Linked DNA regions of Homo sapiens. The protein of the gene in region 1 interacts with the protein of each later gene in a pairwise test. Each region holds a gene or a part of one and is shown on either strand. Other genes may lie near its edges.

The links.
Region 2: the proteins of ABHD6 (region 1) and CKMT2 interact in a two-hybrid assay, tested with the Homo sapiens proteins (one large-scale study listed by BioGRID and IntAct).

Annotation. Positions count from the first base shown.
Region 1 is NC_000003.12:58,265,105-58,268,925, forward strand, and holds part of ABHD6 (monoacylglycerol lipase ABHD6), read left to right. Parts: intron 1-2,084; coding exon 2,085-2,241; intron 2,242-3,821. UniProt on the Homo sapiens protein: Lipase that preferentially hydrolysis medium-chain saturated monoacylglycerols including 2-arachidonoylglycerol. Through 2-arachidonoylglycerol degradation may regulate endocannabinoid signaling pathways.
Region 2 is NC_000005.10:81,239,741-81,243,561, forward strand, and holds part of CKMT2 (creatine kinase S-type, mitochondrial precursor), read left to right. Parts: intron 1-3,821. UniProt on the Homo sapiens protein: Reversibly catalyzes the transfer of phosphate between ATP and various phosphogens (e.g. creatine phosphate).

The DNA.
Region 1 (3,821 bases):
ATTGTTTTGATTTTTAGATCCCATAAATAAGTGAGAGCATGTGATGTTTGTCTTTCTGTGTCTGGCTTACTTCACTTAACATAATGATCTCCAGTTCCATCCATGTTGGTGCACTATTCATATTTTTAATTACTAGTGAACTTGAACATGTTTTTTATGTTTGTTAGTCATTAATATCTTTTCTACTCTAAGGTACCTTTTCATTTATTTTGCCTAGTGTTGAATTAGGGTTTTAGCATGGTTGAGATCAATTTGTAAGCTTTTTATTTATTAAGGATATCATTCTGCAGCTGTCATATTCATTGCAAATATTTCCCCTAATTTTTCCTTTTAATTTTTGGCAAATGATGTATTTGGAAGGACAAAATCATCTTTACATAATACTAATAACTATCATGTACTGAATACTTACCATTTGCTGGGCATTGAACAAAACTTTGTACATGGATTACCTCATCATTTAATCTTTGCCATATTCTTAGTGGAATGCAGCATTTCCTCATATTATAAGATTATATAGTTAGTGTCTTATTCCATTTTGTGTTGCTACAGCAGAATGCCACAGACTAGATAATTTATAAAGAAAAGAAATTTGTTTGGCTTATTGTTCTGGAGGTTGGGAAGCCCAAGAGAATGGCACCAATATCTGGCAAGGGCCTTCCTGCTGTGTCATCCCGTGGTGGAAGGTAGAAGGACAAGAGACTATAAGAGTGAGCCAGAAGCAAGAGGGGACCAGACTCACTTTTATCAGGAATCTACTCCCTCAATAATAGCATTAATCTATTTATGAAGGCAAAACTGTCAGGGCCTAATTACCTCTTAACAGTCCCACTTCACAATGGCAATTAAATTTCAACATGAGTTTTGGAGGGGACATTCAAAGTCAGTAAGTGAATGAGCTGGGATGTGAATGGATGAACAAAGTCGTGTTATGATTTAGAATTTTGAAATACGCTTGCCTTGCTGTAAGAAGAGCTTTTAAGCTAGCCAATGCTATTATGTTCTTTACGTTTTGAGTAGGCAATGCAGTCATTAAAAAAGTTTCAAAAGAAACCAACCAGGTGCGGTTTAACCAGCTGGACGTCTGTAACCCAAGCACTTTGGGAGGCCAACGTGGATGGATCACTTGAGGCCAGGAGTTTGAGACTGGCCTGGCCAACATGGCGAAACCCTGTCTCTACTAAAAATACAAAAATTAGGCAGGCATGGTGGTGTGCACCTGTAACCCTAGATACAGGCTGAGGCACAAGAATTGCTTGAACCCGGGAGGTGGAGGTTGCAGTGAGCGGAAATTGCCCCAGCGTGGGTGACAGAGCGAGACTGTATCTAAAAAAAAAAAAAACCTGACCAAACAAACAACAAAAAAAAAAACCTTATGTATGCTCTCACATTTTTTGTATGCGGATAAAAGTAAATGAATATATATCTTCTCTCCCTCTCTGCTTATTTTACACAAAGAGTTAAGACCAGTCAGTTTAGGTTATTTGCTTTTGCAAGACTTGGCTACTTCTTTAGTGTGAAGTATCTTACAAAGTGCACCTCTGATTGAATTAATTATCTCTCATCTTGGAGGGATTCACCATGCAGAGAGTTCAATTTGTTTAGATGGTAATTTCATATTGAAATTGATTTTGGGCCAAAGTCCAGCACTGCCAAGTCTTATGTAACCAGCAGAAGCTGAGCTTTCAACCAGCTGCCATATGTTATGAGGAACAAAGCCAGAGGACCAGTGCAGATGGTTCTCAAGAAATAAGTTATCACTCTCAAAGTCTCTAGAAAGACATATTATCAAAAGGTTATCATGTGTGGCATACTTCTTAAGAAAACACCGCATTTCCCTTCCTAGAGTGATTAGTAAAATATATACCAAAATAGTTCATTTAAGGTGTTCTCTGGAATGGTTTGGCTTTGTGTTCCTTGAGGGTAAAGCTCAGGAGGACTCTAGAGACTGATGGAGGACAAGGGCTGGAGAAGTGTTTGTGTTATCACTAAGGAAGACTTATAGAGAGGACCTGTGCCCATCTTGAAGCCACTCATCTAGAGCTTACTGATTTCGTTTTGTCTTTATTTCTCACCCCTTCCAGGTACTGGCGGAGGACATTGGGCATGCAAGTCCGCTATGTTCACCATGAAGACTATCAGTTCTGTTATTCCTTCCGGGGCAGGCCTGGGCACAAACCCTCCATCCTCATGCTCCACGGATTCTCTGCCCACAAGGATATGTGGCTCAGTGTGGTCAAGGTGCAATTCTCGATTCTTCTCTCTTATAAGAAAAGGGAGTTGGGTGCTGTGGCTCATGCCTATAATCCCAGCACTTTGGGAGCCTGAGGCAGGAGGATTGCTTGAGTCCAGGAGTTCAAAACCAGCCTGGACAACATAAAGAAACCCTGTCTCTACAAAAAATTAAAAAATTAGCCAGGTGTGGTGGTGCATGCCTGTAGTCCTGGCTACTCAGGAGACTGAGGTGGGAAGATTGCTTGAGCCTGGGGGGTCAAGTCTTCAGTGAGCAATGATCATGCCACTGCACTTAGCCTGGGCAACAGAATAAGACTCTGTCTCAAAAAAAATAAAAATAAAAAAAGGAAGAAGAAGAAAAGGGTTTCCACTAGGACATGATGTCATCAACAATGGTAGAAAGCAAAGGGAACTCAGAACTGTGGTGGTTCAAGTCATATTAGAACTAATGCAGTGTGGCCTGGCACAGTGGCTCATACCTGTAATCCCAGCACTTTGGGGAGGCCAAGGCAGGCAGATCACTTGAGCCCAGGAGTTTGAGACCAGCCTGGGCAACATAGGGAGACTCCGTCTCTACAAAAAAATTAGCCAGGCATGGTGGCATGCACCTGTAGTCCCAGCTACTTTGGAGGCTGAGATGGGAGAATCACCTGAGCCTGGGAAGTCAAGGCTGCAGTGAACCAAGATCGTGCTATACCACACTCCAGCCTGAGCAACAGGAGTGAGACCCTGTCTCAAAACAAACAAACAAACTAATGCAATATGTTACTCATTCTTTTGTCAGAAAAAAATTATTGAGTTGAATATTATATATAAAACGTATGGCTTAGAAATCTTTTTACCTCATGGATATTTCTTTGGGGAGGCTTCTGACACAGCTGCATCTCAGAACTGCTGTGAGATCAGAGTTGGGCTTTGAAAAGTCATTTTTTTTGTACTCCCAAGTTTCTTCTCTTCCTTCCCCTCCATATTCTTCCTTCATTCCTTCTTTTCCTTTCCTTCCCACTCCCTCTTCTACGTCTGCTTTTTTCTTTTCCTTTGCCATTTAGAGAAACAGTCTTGATCTAGCAGCTTTCTGGAAGAGTTTTCCAAGTCACTTTTTGTCTTGGTTTACTTGGGTGTGGCAACTTGCTGCTCTTGGTAAGAGTGATCAGGTGTGAAGGTTGGGGCTGGCAGAAGTCTTGGGCAGGAAGCATCCCTGGCTCCCACATCAGGCAACACCATACCTGAGGGATCCCAAGTATCATCTACACCAGTAGGTGAAGACTCACACACCCTCTAGTTAGTTGTATTCTTATTTCCAAATTCCACTATGAGGACAGTCATTTTCATGCCTTGATGAACTTCCTGTCCCCTCCTCAGATAAATATCTTTCTTATAACTGGATGTTTGTTTGTTGGTAACTTATGTTTCTCAGTTTCCTGGTTAAAAGTGGTACATATCTAAATGGAAGAAGGTGTTTTAGGATAATAATAATTTGGAAAAGTAGACCTTAATGTAAAAAGAAACCAAACAAACCAGAATCGGGGTGATCAGATGTGGTTCTTGGGGAAAACATTGCTCCTGTTGGCTCTGGAGCTGGCTAG
Region 2 (3,821 bases), on another chromosome or scaffold:
TCCCCAAGTAGAGCACAAATCACACACAATTTCTAGTTGCCCAGCAGAGGGCCGTGGTTAAGAGTGTGGACTATGACTGCTGGCCAGAATCCCAGCGCTGCCACTCACAAACCATGTGGTCCTGGGTGAGTTATTTTGCCTTTCTCTCCCTGCATCTGCTCACTTGTAAAATGGGAATAACACGAGCACACAGCGTTTTTTTCCTCAGACTAAGGACTCTGGAAAAGCTGCCACATAGTAGGTAAATAGTCATCAGATGAATAAGTAGACAAATACATATCTCTACCCCCTCCTCACCCCCTCTTTCCCCTCCCTCCAATGCTGCCCACCATGGCTTCTCCCTACCTGAAACATATCAGTGTCATTCACCCACTTGCCCTTGACTCACATGACCCGCTGACCGCCTGGAAGCCTGTAGTGAGTGGTGTTCCTGCGAAGGAAGGCCCCAAGAGCCATCCCCTGGTTCTGCTTCCCCTCAGTGCTGCCTGGAGTGACACCTGTGTGCTGTGGGCATTTTGGCCCCATACTTAGCCTCCCCTCGGCATCAGCCTATGGAAACCCTGCTTAAGGGAAAACACTCAGCATACCTGAGAGACCAGGGAGGATCTGAGGCAGCTGGAACTCTCTGGCAGCTCCATTCCTTGGGAGACAAAGGGTTAATGACAATGGCCCAGAGGAATGGGGGCACACGGCATCCACAGTCCTCCATTGATGCACATGGGTGTGCAGGGGTCTATTCATCGTTTCCACTCAAATCCTTTGCAGTGTGTGACCTGGTCCTAGTCCCAGGGCAGATGGAGGCATGCAATACAGTACTTTGGTATGGTTAAGACCCCATCTAGACATGCTGTAATATTTGTATGGTAAACTATTGTGAGTGAAAGGATCTTTATTTAAATGAGTGCCTGGTGCAGAACAGACACTCGATACATATGATTTCCCTTTAGCTGTGTGACCTTGGGCTGTTAGTTAATGTCTCTGTTTTTGAGTTCCCTCCTCTGTGACATGGGATACCTACTTCTTGGGATTGTTTTGAAAAAAGTACCCTGCCCTTGAAAGCACTCGAATTTTGTTTTCTCTCCTTATTCAGATATTAAAAATGTTATAATAATTACAGTTATCCAACAGTAAAATGGGTTGCTGTGGCAAGTGGTGGGATCCCCAGGACTGCTGGTATTTAAGGAGGGCTGAGGGAAAGGGATGCCTGAATTTCAGCTGAGGTAAATGACCTCTAAAGCCTCTCAGGTTCCTGACATTCATTCACTTACTCATCAGACATTTAATGATAACCTATCATGTGTGGGCCAGCGTGCTTAAGAACCAAGACAAACTGTGGCCCAGTTCTACATTCATTGGGTCTTGTCCCTCTGAAGTAAAGGATGGACCCAGTGATTGTCCCTTGTCCCTTTGATGCGTGGAATTCCCAGTGATTGTCCACCCGACTGGAGCCTTGCCAAGCTTCTTACACTGTGCCTTCCAGCACGTGGAGGGAGGAAACCAATTCCTGCTCCTCGTGAATTCCAGAATGTAAGTTACCCCACAAGCCCATGCAAAAAGGGGAAGAGCTTCCTCCTTTTTCTTAGAGCATTTCCTTTAGAAAACTTATATTTTGCTGCCCCTTTGAAATGTATATAAATCTTTTTAAAAGCTAAGTAAGGCTCCAGTCGATTTTACAACCTAGGACTCTTTTCCTGCAAGGGCCTGGAAACCATCTCTTTGAAAATACAGACATCAAGGAAGATAGCTCCCTACCTCCCACTGTCAGTGGGAGGGCAGTGGGTAGTAGTTTCATTTAAGCACCTGGCTCCAAGTTGTAAAACTACCTGCTGTCCTAGAAACTTGAGTTTTATTTTTCCTTTTGATAAAGGCAATTAGCGAACACAAATGGTCACCAGGTGAATTTAGGATGAATTATGCTTGACAAATGGTGCTGTCAAGTCCTCTTACTTTAGTTCGAGAACATGTATGTAATGAATGGGTCCTATTTGCTTGCCCACATAAAAGGGTGGGATGTCTGTCTTTGCAATCTCCTTAGCAGAATGCTAAAGATGTGCATCACTAGTTTAATGTTTATTCAATAATAAAATATTTTCTTTTTCCTATATTTTATGGAGAGGAATTTCTGGGGTGGGAGGAAATTTAAATTGTTTCCCCAACACCTAGCACTTGCTCCTCATCTGATTCTTCCTTTCCAATCTGCCTGCTCAGTCAGAACCCCTAAAAAAAAAAAAAAGGAAACAGAAGGACATGCACATTTAGGCCTTGTACTCTGCTGGCTTTCGTCTGTTATCTGTGGGGTAGTCTCTGCTGTGTCACATACGGACATCTCTGACGATGGGCACGATGAGCTCCCAGGGTTCAGACAGCCTGTCATGGTCAAACGGTCAGGAGCCTGCACTGGGCCACCCTAATTTGCAGATACCAGGAAACGGAGCAGGTACATGCTCAAAACCAGAACTGAGTGTCTCACTTGGTGGCTTTTATTGATAGGATTTCAAAATCCATGTCTGAAAGAAATGTGTGTCACATCATATAAGTAGATTTCATTCAAAAGTTTGTGGGCTTTTTTTTTGTGAGACAAAGGTTTGTTCATTTCTTGCATTTGAAGTACTCTTTGATGACATCCTTGGGCTGAGACTCCTTGCCATAGTCCTTAACTACTACACAACTGCAACCAACCACTTTACAGGGTTTCCCCTCTCTGTCAATTTTACAGAGGTCGCCTACTCATTCCCCTAGTTTCTTGTCATCAACCTTAATTAGGTTGATTTGGTGTTCAGCACAAAGGGCCTTGACCAACCTGACATACATAGGCTCATCAGAATTGGATGCAGGCACACAAAGATGGGGTTGGTTCTGGTTGCCCAGCATGCCAAAAAAGCCAAACATTGACGCTGAGATTTGTAGTGAGAAAAAGGCGTTTATTGCTGGGTGCCAAGCAAGAAGAATGGGTACCTAGCACTTAACACCTGAGCTCCCTGCTGGCTTATAAGCAAGGGTTTTTAAAGCAGGAGTGAGGGGGTATCCAAAATGAGTTAAGAGCTAGGGAATTTCTGGAACTTCCATATCTATTTTTTGGTTTCAGTCTGTCTGAGTTCTATGACAGTGGTCAGCATTTTCCATCTGGTGTGGGAATTGTTTTCTGAAAAGCAATGCAAGGGAATAGGTCAAGATGCTATCTTTAGTTTCTACAGGGAATCAAACATTTTGTGACTCTGACTTACTTGAGTGGCTTTTAAATTATTATCTTCTTGTTTAGCAGGTTATTCGTTAACTTCCCTAATTGCTGGCTGTAGGACTAGCTAGGTACCTGGAACTTCCCTTAAAGGGACTGAGAATGTTGCCTTGATTTCTATGCTTGGCACATGTGGGTAAGGGGAGGAGCCCAGCAGGGCCATAAGAGAGGTCCCTTGGGAAGACAATACAAACATTAGGAGTGAACAGAATAGAGATATGTGGCACTGAGTTTACCCGCAGATGCCAAAAAGGCACAGAGCACAAGGGCAGATGAATGAGCAGCCCATGAGTACACTGCGAACTGAGAGAGAATGCAGTCATCTTGAGCTAGAAGGGAACAGATTTTGTGGGGATTGAGGCACCAGGCTGTGGTCCAATTAGGCAGAGAAAGATGGACAACAGAGTCCAAACGGTAGGGGGTGATAAGAAGCAAGAAACAGTAATAACTGTTTCTAAAACAAATTAGATTTGTTGCATTAGCACAAAATAGAAACAGCAAACCAATATTTTAAAAAGTCATATACAGTATATAATATTAGAATAGAGATACAAATGTAGGATATACATGTGTGTTTTTCAAATTG